Linked DNA regions of Homo sapiens. The protein of the gene in region 1 interacts with the protein of each later gene in a pairwise test. Each region holds a gene or a part of one and is shown in the gene's direction. Other genes may lie near its edges.

Region 1 (7,237 bases):
TTGATTATAGACGCAAGTCACTGGGCCTTGGGATTATAGACGCGAGTCACTGGGCCCAGCTTTCTTTCCAGTTTTAAAGTATTATTTTTAATTATCCAAACTAAATGTGTAGTAAATACTCTTCTTATAAATCTTTGTTTTCTTGATTGCTTCCTTAGCATATAATTTCAGAAATAGAACTGATCAAAGGGTATGCACATTTTTAAGGATTTATAATGCCAGATGCCTTCCAAAAGATGTTAACAACTTATTGAACTGACAGTATATAAGGGTGCTATAGAGTAATTTATTTATTTGAAAAACAAATCTTTATTGTGTAGAAATATGTATTTTAAAAATCCCCCAGAAAAGATGCTCTTCTCTCATTTCCCCATCCTCTTCCTTTTCTTCCACACCTCTGATATGAAGGACATTATTATACCTTATTAAAACTTCATCCACACTAGGCATGGTGGCTCATGCCTGTAATCCTGGCATTTTGGGAGGCCAAGGCAGGCAGATCACTTGAGGTCAGGAGTTTGAGACCAGCCTGGCCAACATGGTGAAATCCTGTCTCTACTAAAAATACAACAATTAGCCAGGTGTGGTGGCTGACGCTTGTAATCCCAGCTACTTGGGAGGCCAAGGCACGAGAATCACTTGAACCTGGAGGTTGCAGTGAGCTGAGATCGCACCACTGCACTCCAGCCTGGGTGATAGAGCGAGACTCTGTCTAAAAATAAGATAAAATAAAATAAAATGAAAACTTCATCCAGATGTCTAGACAACACTTTAACTATGTATTCTTCTGTATTTGCAAGTTACATGTTCATATAGCCATCTACAGATACCAGTTAGCCTTTGTAATCCATTCCCCACTTAAGTTTCACCATCTACTGGCTTTTCTGTTAATCCCTTGAGGAAAGGTTTGGAATTGAGGAGTAAATCCTTTATAAGGAGAATGCTGCAGTCTATTCGCTATTCACCGCTGACCAAGCTGCCACCTGGCCCTCCTGACTGCAGCAGGCACCCCCAGACAGTCATGTAAATGGACTAGGCCTGAGTCTGTAGTTCTTTGCTCTGAAAAAGGAGACGTAATGGCTTCTACTTTTTATCATTTGGTGGAAATAATAGAGGAGTTTTTCTAGAATGTTTTTTGATCTGGTGGTTAAAGGGAACTTGGACATTTAGTCCCTGAAATAAATTGTTGCATCTTTGAAGGAAAAGATGAAAGTAGTTTCTTACACTTTAGTGAAGAAGCCTTTGGAAAATTTTGTTCTGGATGTTGTATATTCTCTGTAGAGGAGTGTTGGGGATTCCCCACATCAGCAGAACTAAAGGGTAACTGAAGAGAACAGGGAGTGACATGTCAGATTGAGAATCAGTCTTTTGAAAGTGGCAAAAAGAATATGTGTTAAAAGAAAAAATAGGGTAGAAGATAAAAAGAATAGGGCAGAAGATATTAGCTTCAATTCCTCCTTTTTTTTTTTTTTTTTTGATCCTTTGGAATGATTTCTTCCTAGACTGCCAGTGTTGCGTAGTAACCCCGCCCATGAAGAGGACTGGAATACTGAAAAACTGCATGAAACTAAGCGCTGTGGGTTGGGCGGGGTGGCTCACGCCTGTAATTCCACACTTTGGGAGGCCAAGTTGGCTGGATTGCTTGAGCTCAGGAGCTTGAGACCAGCCTAGGTAACATGATGAAACCCCATCTTTACAAAAGATACAAAAATTAGCTGGGTGTGGTGGCATGAAGCTGTAGTCCCAGCTACTCAGGAGGCTGAGGTGGGAGGATCACTTGAGCCTGGGAGGTAGAGGCTGCAGTGAGCCGTGATTGTCCCACTGCACTTCCGCCTGGGCAACAGAGCGAGATCCTGTCCCAAAAACAAAAAAACTAAGCACTGTGGATTAGAAATTAATAATTTTTCATCTTTATATCTTTTTTTTTTTTTTTGAGACAGTCTTGCTCTGTCTCCCAGGCTGGAGTGCAGTGGCACGATCTCGGCTCACTTAGGCAAGGTGTTTAATTAATCTCTGAAAAGTGGAGAATTTAGCACCAGGCATGGTGACTGGTGCCTGTAATCCTAGCTACTTGAGAGGATGAGGTGGAAGTGTTAAAGGTGGAGGGTGTCCAGGTTCTTGGTGTCTTGAAAAAAGAATTGGACAAAATGCACAAACAAAGCAAGGAAGGGACAAGGAATTTACTGAACATGAAAGTACACTCCAGTGTGGGAGCGGGCCTGAGCTTAGAAGTTCAGTGGCTCCGTTACAGAATTTTGGGGAGTTTAAATAACCCCAGAGGATTCCATGGTTACTTCGGGTATGCCTTATGTAAATAGAGAAGATGAAGTAAAGTTACAAAGACATTTATGGCCTATGCCCTATGGACAGAATATTACCTGTTATAGCTGAAGTGTGAATTGGCCTTATGTTCCCTACCTCCAGACCCTATTTTCCTGCCTCAGGAGGATTACTTGAGCCTAGGAGTTCAAGTCCAGTCTGGACATCAATAGTGAGACCCCTGCCTCTGAAAAAAAATTTTTTTGAGACAGAGTTTTGCTCTTGTTGCCCAGGCTGGAGTGCAATGGGATGATCTCAGCTCACTGTAACTTCCACCTCCTGGATTCAAGCAATTCTCCTGCCTCAGCTTCCCTAGTAGCTGGGATTACAGGAGCCGGCCACCACGCCCGGATAATTTTTTGTATTTTTAGTAGAGACAGGGTTACACCATGTTGGCCAGGCTGGTCTTGAACTCCTGACCTCAGGTGATCTGCCCACCTCAGCCTCACAAAGTCCTGGGATTACAGGCGTGAGCCACCGAGCCCAGCAAATTTTTGTTTTTTAGACGGAGTCTCCCTCTATCGCCCAGGCTGGAGCACAGAAATGCGATCTCGGCTCACTGCAACCTCTGCCGCTTGGGTTCAAGTGATTCTCCTGACTCAGCCTCCCGAGTAGCTGCGATTACAGGCGGGCACCACCATGCCCGACTAATTTTTTGTATTTTTAGTAGAGACGGGGTTTCACCATGCTGGCCAAGCTGGAAAATTTTATTTTTAATAAATGAAAGGCAGAGTATTTATCTGAAAAAAGTGGGAGACCAACAGTCTCATGGGATTGTTATAAAGATTAAAAGAGAGAGTGTTACTGAAATACTTAGAAGAGCTGTTATTCTATTGCTGTCCTTTCCCCTTGTATTTGGATAGATTACCGTACTTGTTTCTTCTATGTAACTCTAATTGTCAGTGGGGTTCTCCCTCTCTTAGAGGCCTGGAGAAACTTGTCTTAAATGCTTTCCCAGTTAATGAATTGGGAGAGGCAGATTTTATGTCTAAATTACAAGGGCGAGACTTAAAAGTATGAATTGGGGCTAATGTCAGTGCTCAGGTGCAGGGATCCTCCGTTTTGTTCATCACACAGCTCCCGGCACTTTAATAAATGAGGCTCAAAGAAACGACGGGCTTAGGTCATGCAGTAGTCAAATTCAGAACTCATGTTTGATTCCAAAGCCCACACGTTTTCCTAGTTTAGAAACACTAAACATTTAATTCACCGCACCGGGGGCCAGACAGGTAATGGAGAACGCCTTAAGTATGTTAGGAAGGGAAGTTATCTACAGTCGCAGCCGCTATTCAGATCTATTTCACTGCCTTGCAGAAAACGCCGACTGTCGTCTCTTTATCCCATGGCCGATTTCTTGTGAAATCTCCTAACTTTTAAATATTTCCAATCAAAAGACTGCCGTTCAAATGCAGCCCACCAGGAGCATGTTTGCAAACTCTGGAGTAAACAAGAGTGGGAAGCTGATAAGGTGAGTACCTCAGTTCGATAGTGACAGCCAAGAAACGGGGAGTTTTGTACCTAAGGCGAGAAAGAAATTCTCCGCCGAAATCTCCCGGAAGAAGGACTGAATTAAATGCAGATTAGAGTCAGGGCAGGGTAAGGTGGCGGGAGAACTAGGCTGCCATCCCAGGTGGCTGGCCTACCAGCCAGCGCGGCCGGAGGTACAGACCATGTACAGACCACGGCGAGGGGTGTTAGGGGCTTCTCGGGATAAAGGCAGCGAGTGGCTGCGCATTCCCTCCCCGACTCTTTCAGAGGTAAGCCTTCTGTGGAGCAGACCCTAATCCTCCCCCTGATTCCTTAGGTCACTCGGCGATTTACTTCCTTCCCCCGCTTCCTCACAGTCCTCCACAGCCCTACGACTTCCGCTTGCCTCGTCGTCTGGGAAACCGCCGACTTCCGGCCGCGCAGCGGTGGGCTGAGCTAAAATGGCTGAGGAGAGAGTCGCGACGGTGAGCGCCGAGATTCTCTTTAGTTGCCCGGCCGCAGGGCAAGGCAAGCTGGCGGGTGGCTTTTGTCCCATGCAGCGGTTCCTGGAGAGAGGCGGAGCTGGGTGCCGAGCGTCTCAGGGTGGGCGGGGCGACACGGTCCCCTTTTTACTGTCCCGGGAACTGGTCGCCTGGGGCAAGTCTGGATACTTAGCAGCACAGGTCCTGTTCTAGGACTGTAGTCCCTCTTGGGGTGCGCTGGACGGAGAAGGGAGACTTTTCACCAGTAATGGCTCTTACCGTAGTGCCATCTTTTTCTGTCTCGGGGGTTTGGAAGGTAATGACTAGCACTTGTGTAGACAGTTCCTGTTAATCCCGTGAATTGGGAATTTAACATGCCTGGAAGCTTGCAGCGTCACTGCCTTCTGCCAGTGGAGCGGGACTGTGTTTTTTCTGTGGTGATTAAGTTTAGGAAAGTACGGTTTTGGAATTCATCTGAAGGCTGAGTTGGGCGTTCACTCCACAGAACTGCTAATATAGAGGAACCCGATGAATTCAGGATGACCTAGTCGCTATTTTTTGAGGCATATATCTATAATTGGATCTAATTTCGGTAAAGTGCCAAGTGTGAAGCTTTGTTTACCTTGCTTTAGTGTTGGGTTTGAAAGCCTGTTCTGTCCATTTGTTAGAATGATTTTAGGTATTCGGAATTTATTGTCTTTCGAAAAACGCCCTGGAAAACAGTACAAATAGCAGCCTTTGGCTGTTTTACAACTTAGTTTTGGCTAAGCAGCAAGGTTAGTGTTATTGTTAGAGGGCCTTTTGTTTGTTTTCTACTCTCATTTGCAGAGTAGTCATATTATTCTAGTCTAATTAGAAAACTCTGAAGACAGAAACTTTTTTTTTTGAGACGGAGTGTCGCTGTTGTCGGCCCGGGCTGGAGTGCAATGGCGCGATCTCGGCTCACTGCAACCTCCGCCTCCCAGGTTCCAGCAATTCTCCTGCCTCAGCCTCCGGATTAGCTGAGAATACAGGCGCCTGCCACCACGCCCGGCCGAAACATTTTTATTAAGCTAAGAAATTTAAAATAGCTAGGCCGGACGCGGTGCATCACGCCTGTAATCCCAGCACTTTGGGAGGCCGAGACGGGTGGATCACTTGAGGTCATGAGTTTGAGACCATCCTGGCCAACATGGTGAAACCCCGTCTCTACTAAAAATACAAAAATTAGCGGGGCATCGTGGCGCTCGCCTGTAATCCCAGGTACCTGGAAGGCTGAGGCAGGAGAATCGCTTGAACCCCGGAGGCGGAGGTTGCAGTGAGCCGAGATCATGCCATTGCACTCCAGCATGAGCGACAGAGACAGACTCCTTCTCAAAAAAAAAGAAAGAAAAAACAGATTTTAAAATAATTAAATAGGCCAGGCTCAGTGGCTCACGCCTGTAATCCTAGCACCTTGGGAGGCTGAGGTGGGTGGATCGCCTGAGGTCAGGAGTTCGAGACCAGCCTGGCCAACGTAGTGAAACCCTGTCCCTACTAAAAAAATACAAAAAATTAGCTGGACGTGGTGGCGGGCGCTGGTAATCCCAGCTACTAGGGAGGCTGAGGCAGGAGAATCGCTTAGAACCCAGGAGGCAGAGGTTGCAGTGAGCCGAGATCGTGCCATTTCACTGCAGCCTGGGCATCCAGAGCAAAACTCCGTCTCAGAAAAAAAAAAAAAGTAAATAGCATGGTTAATGTTACTGGGTTTTAAATATTAAAAACATAGGAAAGAAAATACTTCCACTCCAGCCTGGGTGACAGAGCAAGACTCCGTCTCAAAAAAAAAAAAAAAAAAAAAAAGAAAATACTTCTAAGTAATCTTAAAGTGTAAAAGATAATGGGTAACATAACATTGCTACAAATATAGCTTATCCTCTAGTGCTCATCACAAGTGTTTGTGTAATAGAATATGAACTTGAGTCTGTGACGGCAGAATTGTCATGTACATTTGAATGTCTAATACTGTTTTAAAGAGAATAGCTTTTGTTTCGATATGACTTAGCAATTAAGCCTGAAGTTAACTGTTTTCATTGTTGTCAAATTTATTGCTAGTAGTGTTACGTTTATAGTAATTTTCATCTTTTCAAGTTACCAATGCATGGAAATGTGAATTTCTGTCCTTTTAGGAAGTGGTATTTTATCTTTTTTTTTTTTTTTTTTTTGAGACGGAGTCTCACTTTGTCGCCCTGTCTGGAGTGCAGTGGCGTGATCTCAGCTCAGTGGAACCTCTGCCTCCCGGGTTCAAGTGATTTTTCTGCCTCAGCCTCCCGAGTAGCTGGGGTTACAGGCCCTCACCACCATGCCTGGCTTATTTTTGTGGAGATGGGGTTTCACCACGTTGGCCAGGCTGGTCTTGAACTCCTGACCTTGTGATCTGCACGCCTCGGTCTCCCAAAGTGTTGGGATTACAGGCGTGAGCCATGGCCCCCTGCCTTATTTTTTAATACAATTAAAAGAACCCAGTAATCCTACTCCTAGACCTGTGTCCCACAGAAAAAAGTGTTAAACATGAGCGTGTAGTACTAGGGCATTCGTTGTAGTACTATCCGTAGTGGCAAAACGCTGGAAGCAAATTAAATGCCCATTAATAGGGTAATTGATGACTTCAGATATTTCCATACTGTGGAATATTATGCAGTCATTAAAAAGAATGTTACAACTAATTGCTTTTCCTCTCAGAAGCCCCTCTCTCTCACTAGAGAAAGCTGTTCTCCTTTCTTTCTTCTGCCTATTAAACCTCCATTCCTAAACTCAGAAAGAAAAAAAAAAAAAGAGAATGTTACGACTAATTGACTTGGAGGGACTTCCATGGTGTACATTTAAATAAAAGGTAGATGTGAAGTGGGGTATATTATGTGATCTTAATTTCATAACACAAAGGAAAACATATAGATCCGTAGATAAGGATATATGGATATGGAGGAGAGAAAAGGAAAAGACTCAAAACT
Region 2 (7,028 bases), on another chromosome or scaffold:
TGATATTTGCTGACTATATTAAACCTTAGTTTTCCTTAAATGTTCCTCACTTTCTTTCTCTTAAGATTTCAAGCAAAATACCCCCAAAACAGAAATATCTTTAAATTTTTTACTCAGGAGGTTGAGGCAGGAGGATTGCTTGAGTCCAGGAATTGGAGACTGCCCTATGATCACACCCATGAGTAGCCACTGCACCCCAGCCTGGTCAAAATAGCAAAACCCCATCTTTAAAATATAATGTTACAAAATTGTATCTCTCCGCCATTCAATCTGCTGGAAAACATAATTTCAATCTCCCATTTACATCTGTTTATAAATACTGCCACATCAGTTTCATTCATCATTTCTCATGAAAGCCCCATCTCTGATGTTTATCTTCTTTTATCTATAAGCTATTTAAACTTTTAAAACTGTTTTTCCAAAAAAAATCTCTAATTGTAGCAAACTGTATTTATGGTTACCTATGGCTACCCTTCTTGTTCTTTGAGATACAACAATAATGCCTTTTCCTTTGTGTAAGAAATGGTATTAATAAAATTATTTAGAAATTTGAGGCAGCAAGTTATTGATTATTTCATCATACTTCCTCTAGCATACTCAAAATGATGGCTCTAAATAGCCCATTCAACAGGAAGAGGCATATTGCTTTCTGATTTCCAGATAAAGACTTAAATATGGAAAACATCTAAAATGACTAAAGATATTTTTTAATTTAAAAGGAAAAGGGGACATTGTATATCCAAAATCCAAAACCAAAAAGACAATAAATTTAAAAATACAAGCAGAAACCATGAAAATAAGTCCAGTAAGGCAGGAGAATGGGTTGGGGGAGGCTGGAAGGAAGAGTGCAGAAGAAGGGAATTCCTTTTTTCTGTATATATGAACCATCGTGAGTTTAGATTAATCTCAAAACTATGCATATGCTCAAATTCATATTGATTAGGTAACAAAATCATAAAACTATATTTTATTATTAATAGTTGTACCCTTTGCCATTCCATTTGAGGACTCAGAAGTCTATTAAGTAAACAGGAGACTGGGACAGAATTCAGTCAAGAACTCAGACAGCTCACTGACCTTTTAAGCCCAATGGTCTATCAGGAGAATAGCATATCAAAAGCTTACAGAACTAAACAGAGATTCGAGCAACCATCCACAATGGTCAACAGAGCTTATAGTTTGAACCTAACTAGGTTGATTGCCTATTAAGTAAAAACATTAACATGTTAGCTCAAAAAAGATTATGAAAGGTCAGGCGGACTATGAAATCTTTGAAAAGGAAATGGAAGTGAGATTATTCTGGGAGAATTTGGAGCTAACTAGACTATATCTTGAGTATGTTCTAGAAATTGCCTTACCAAGCCTAACATACCTCCTTTGGGAGGTAAGGTTTAATATTCTTACCCATCTTGTTAGAGCTAGAGATTAATATTTGCCCTAACCTGATACTTTAAGAGGTAAACTTTTTTTTTTTTTTAAAGACCTTCCTAGAGATATCTCTAAATTATTTTCGGCATTTCAGAAACTACATCAAGCAGCATGCTTGATTCAAGCCTATTGGAAGGGTTTTCAGACAAGAAAGAGATTAAAGAAGCTTCCATCTGCTGTGATTGCTTTGCAGAGGAGTTTCAGGTAAAAAAATTTGGTGAGGGGATTGATGATCATAGAATCTTACTAGAGTACAGTTGAATTGAAATTTAGGTGATTTTTTTTTAATTTCCTAGTATGTTTCTTGTTATCTTTTCATTTTTTTTCCATACGTTTCTGGGTACCAACACTCCAGTAACCAGATGCACTTTCAAAGCAAAGGATGTAAGACAGGAATCTGATGTGTCAAATATGCAATCCTATCCACTTAATAAGATATTTGGGGAGGGGCCAAGCCTACAAAGGGAGCCAATGATAGTTATATTATTAAACCCTCTAAACCAACAGTTATCATAATTTCGTGTGTATAATTATAACAATAACATGTATGCGTATAAGAGTTTAAGTCTGTTAACCTGATTTTCCTGAATAAATATGGCATGGATGGATATCTTCATTGAATTATGATATAGTTCGGCATTTATTTCAAGTAGACTGAAAAGGAAATACTGAAGACATAGCCCACTTTCTGCAATGACTTAACCAATCCAGATCCTCCAAGGTCACAGAACAAGAAAAAATAACTTAGCTTCTAGGTAATTTATGGTAAAGAAGATCTGTTTCAGAGGTGACTTTTTCATGCAGCCTAACTTAAAGCCAAGCTTTAGTTTGCTAAAATGAAACTGGCATTTTACAGAAGTTAATTCTTTAAAGAAAACTGAAACTATTCTTTTAATAACTGCAGATGCATTTCTCAGTTATAAAAACATTTAAAAATAGCTCTGGGGTTCAAAATACTATGTAGTCACAGAGTTGAAGACATTGAAATCACTCTAGCTAACTGTGTCTCTTAGTGGGTATCCTATTAATTGATGAACGTTTTCTTCAGGGAAGAATTAAAGATGGATTTTAAATATTATTGGGCATGAATATTGTTGGTAGCAAAGAAAAGAATTAATTTTTAAATATATATCAAATGCCTAGTATATGATATATGTACTAGGCATTTAACAGATTCGAGTTTGTATCTCACTTGAGCAGCTTACTGGTTGAGTGAACTTGGACAATCCCCCACCTCTCTCAGCCTCAAACTTCCAATCTATAAAATGAGAATAATAGTTTATACACTTGTATGATCAAGATAATGTAAAATTTGAGATAATACAAAGTTTTTAGCATATTATCTGGCACTTAAAAAATGATAGAAGGAAAAATGCATATGGCACATTTTCTGTCCTTGAAAATTTACAAATCTAGGTAAACAAATAGATGCATTAAATAGGTAGTACTAATGAGAAGCAAGTATTATCCATCTATTATTACTCAAAGTTTATTGCCTATCTTACAAGCTGTTTTTTTTTTAAAAGCATTTCTGTGGTTAGATAAATTTGGGAAATATTGAGTACTTTTTGAGTCACAGTGTATATTTTTCTACCCAAAGCATCTGAGGTGCTCTTGGTATTGCCTCTGTGGTGAATTCAGATAGAGTAGGTATTACTTATGGATTCCACCTGCTATCATCCTTAGTTACCTGTCATCTTAAATTTAAGGGTACCCTTATACATGGATTCAGAGCATTAATGTTTAGTCCCACAAGAGTTCCCAAATTTGCTCATATACTCTCTCTTTCAATATTAAAATCTCTATTTAAAAGTAGCCCAGGATTACAGATTTTTTTCTACTTAGAAGTGTATCTATGGAATCTAATATTCCATTATTTTAAAATAGAAATTCCATTGCTTTCTTTATGTAACCAGAAGAGTTATAAATACTTCCATTAAAAAGATAAGCTGTGAAGCAAAAATTATTTAAGTCTCACATTTTGTGTTTGTTGCCTTTCCAGTATTTTTGCATTTGAGGTTCCAGAATATACTGAAATGCGGTTCTAACCTGTTGGATTCTATTTAATTTTTTAATTTTCAGTTTTCTCCAGTTCAGCACCTTCGCTCTTCTATTAGTTGTAACAGTTCATGCAAATGTCTCTTGCTTCCTTTGTAGCTTGGTTTTTTTTCAAAGGTTATTTCTGTCTTTTTGTGCTCAGGACTTATCTCAGTAATTTCCCCTTCCCATGGTTTTGGGAGAGAGACTGCCCACTGGTCACACTTATGGGTCCAGGTTGATTAGTGTTCTTTAGATTCAGCAAGAGGCATTCTTTTATAGTCACGCCCTTGCTAATGCACTTTCATAGTGGTTTCTTTTTTATTTAGTCATTTCTCGTATTCAGAAACTTTGTCTCTTAAGTACTCTTATTCAGCAAGGTTTTCTGAAGCGGCTAACAGCTGCTCTAGTTATCTTAGAGAAACCTCACAATTTACCTACCTCTATCATAGTGCTGATTTTTAAGTGTTTTAATTACATTTGTTGATTTCATCTTGAAACTGAGCTTCTTAAATGCAGATAGCATCTTTTTTCTCTCTCTCCCTCTGAGGCACAGTGTCTTGGCAGCAGAAAATTTGGTCAACTCCCACTTTAATGGTAAAAATTCAGATTGATTAAATGTAAATCATGGAATTTACTTATTTCAGAATATGACATCTGATCAGTCATTTCATCTTCAGAAGTGTAGTACAGATGCCAGGTGGTCCAGTGCCTACTAATTCTTACAAAGAAACCAGTTGGAAGAATAATTGTTTGATTTTTGAGTGATTAGAGAAACTCTGAACAAAATAACTCGATGTTATTTAATAATAAATGGGGGAATTACATTCAAAATCACTTCAGTTCCTAATAAATGTTTTCAGATATGAAAGTAAAACATATGAATCCAATAAGCACACCTGTTTACAATTTAGTCCCTATTTAAATCACCAAATCTCACTTTTTTTTTTTTTTTTTTTTTTGAGACGGAGTCTTGCTCTGTGGCCCAGGCGGGAGTGCAGTGGCGCAATCTCGGCTCACTGCAAGCTCCGCCTCCCGGGTTCACACCATTCTCCTGCCTCAGCCTCCCGAGTAGCTGGGACTACAGGCGCCCGCCATCACGCCCGGCTAATTTTTTTGTTATTTTTTAGTAGAGACGGGGTTTCACCGTGTTAGCCAGGATGGTCTCGATCTCCTGACCTCGTGATCCACCCGCCTCGGCCTCCCAAAGTGCTGGGATTACAAGCGTGAGCCACCGCGCCCGGCCCAAATCTCACTTTTGTCCTGTCTTTCTGGTTTGTACTTTACTTCCACCTTCATGCTCCATAGTCTTTTCATTTTTGCCATATTTGATAGCCTACATGCCTAAATTGTTTCCCAAACCCAGTTTTCTGACAGATTAAATATTCTAGCAGATGCAATTTTAATGATTACTATGTTTTTCATACTAATAGTGTAAAATGGTATTTAAAATATTGATAATGCAGTATTAGACATTATAATCTATAGCCAATTAGAAGTTAGAAACAGAGGTAGTTTTTTGTCGTTGTTGTTGTTTTGAGGCGGAGTCTCACTCTGTCACTCAGGCTAGAGTGCAGTGGCACGATCTTGGCTCACTGCAACCTCCACCTCCCAGGTTCAAGCTCCTGCCTCAGCCTCCCAAGTAGCTGGGACTACAAGTGCACACCATCACACCCAGCTAATTTTTGTATTTTTAGTAGAAATGGGGTTTCGCTATGTTGGCCAGGCTGGTCTCAAACTCCTGACCTCAGGTGATCCACCCACCTTGGCCTCCCAAAGTGCTGGGATTACAGGCGTGAACCACCGCGCCCGGCCACAGAGGTAGTTTTTTAAAAATCAGTTTAAAAGGAGGCTCTGTTTAGGGCCTGCTCTCTTTTACCCTCTATGAATGGGTAAGAGATAAAACATTATTATCTGCATGCTGTATAACCCAGAAGTTTTGAGGTGATGGAGTTCTGTAGAACAGGCAAGTTGCTATCAGCTATTCTTTGGGAAGGGAGAGGCCCTTACCTACTTCATTTCCAGCTTTCACAAAGAGCAAGAGACACTTAGAACTATTCAACTAGCCCTAGATCTTCTCTGGAATCTTTTGACACACATACACTTTTGAGGTCTTCTCTACCCTTGATAATAGGGATAAGAAAGAAGTTTCAAAACAAATAAATTCTCTACTCTGCCCTAAGTAGAAAGCTAGAGAAAATTTAAGTTGTAATTGATGGAAGAATTTATGAGAAACAACCACAGGCACACAAAATTTTATCAAAATCAAAATAAACTATTTTGAGTTGAAAATTCAGTTGAAAAATCATAATAATCCTAACTATACTATAATGAAGTCTGACTATTAAGAGTACAAAGCTATAGCCAAGGTACCACATTTGTTTACAGTTTAATTCTAAGAATACAGTTTAAAAAAAAGATCTAAGAGAAAATGTTCTTGAGGGAGACACATGTCAAATTAAGTCTATAGCGGTAAACTAAGTAGTTTATTCTGCCTTTCTTCTTATCCTCGTTTTCTTTTTCTGTGGGTGTCTGAAAGCATTTTGAGTATATTTACTGTAAACTGACACTTGTAGTCTCCTTACATAGTGATATTGGAAGCAACAAAAACTAGATGGGAATGGCTAAGGAGAAATTTTGGTGAATAAAAGCAGATAATACAGAAATTATAATTATATAAAATGTTTGTGGTCACATGAAAATTTTCATAACCAGTTATGAAAGTAATGTTCAGTTGTCAATAATTGAGAAATAGGCATAAGAAGAAAATAAAGATCAACTGTAATTACATCATGCAGTAAAAATCACTTGAAATTTTAATGTTTTTTATTTTTTTTTTGTGTAAGTAAATGTAAGTTTTTTGACACAATTTTGATGTCATTCTTCTATATCCTGATTTTCCTTTTACCTGACATTAGATCATCAGTATATTCTCATGTCACTAAATATTCTTCGAACATTTTATGTTTTCATAGTTCATAGAATCCCATCCCATCAGGTGAATGAACCAGTATCTGTTTATCCAACTCGCTGTTGTGAGACAAAGTTTGTTTTCAACTTGTTACTGTTGTAATACTGTGGAGAACATTTTTGAACATAAATTTTTACATATATATCTGATTATTTCCTTAAGAAAATTATTTGTAATAGAATTAATTGGTCATCACTTTTAAGGCTTTTTATTTATATATTTCAAATATTTTTCCAGACTTTTAATGCATATATTCAAATATTTCTACAGAAAGATTGCACAACAGCAGCAGATGACAAGCTATTTTATCATACCTTATTAACACTAGAAATTATCTTAAAATTTTTTCTGTTTACATTTATTTGATTACTAGTGAGGTTATGCATTTTTTCATATGATTTATGAAAATTATGTATAACACACTGTTTCCATCACAGATCCAAACGATCAAAGATGTTGCTGGAGATAAATAGGCAGAAGGAAGAAGAGGACCTCAAATTACAATTGCAACTTCAAAGACAGAGAGCCATGAGACTTTCCCGAGAATTGCAGCTGAGTATGCTCGAAATAGTTCATCCAGGTGAGTGGCAGT

The links. Proteins that work in one complex are often made in the same cells at the same time.
Region 2: the proteins of BBS4 (region 1) and IQCB1 interact in binary tests that used the Homo sapiens proteins (3 or more experiments, as listed by UniProt).

What each region holds. Positions count from the first base shown.
Region 1 is NC_000015.10:72,681,981-72,689,217, forward strand, and holds the start of BBS4 (BBSome complex member BBS4), read left to right. Parts: upstream 1-4,226; 5' UTR 4,227-4,247; coding exon 4,248-4,271; exon of another isoform or gene 4,272-4,536; coding exon of another isoform or gene 4,537-4,584; intron 4,585-7,237.
Region 2 is NC_000003.12:121,790,061-121,797,088, reverse strand, and holds part of IQCB1 (IQ calmodulin-binding motif-containing protein 1), read left to right. Parts: intron 1-1,522; coding exon 1,523-1,632; intron 1,633-6,873; coding exon 6,874-7,016; intron 7,017-7,028. UniProt on the Homo sapiens protein: Involved in ciliogenesis. The function in an early step in cilia formation depends on its association with CEP290/NPHP6.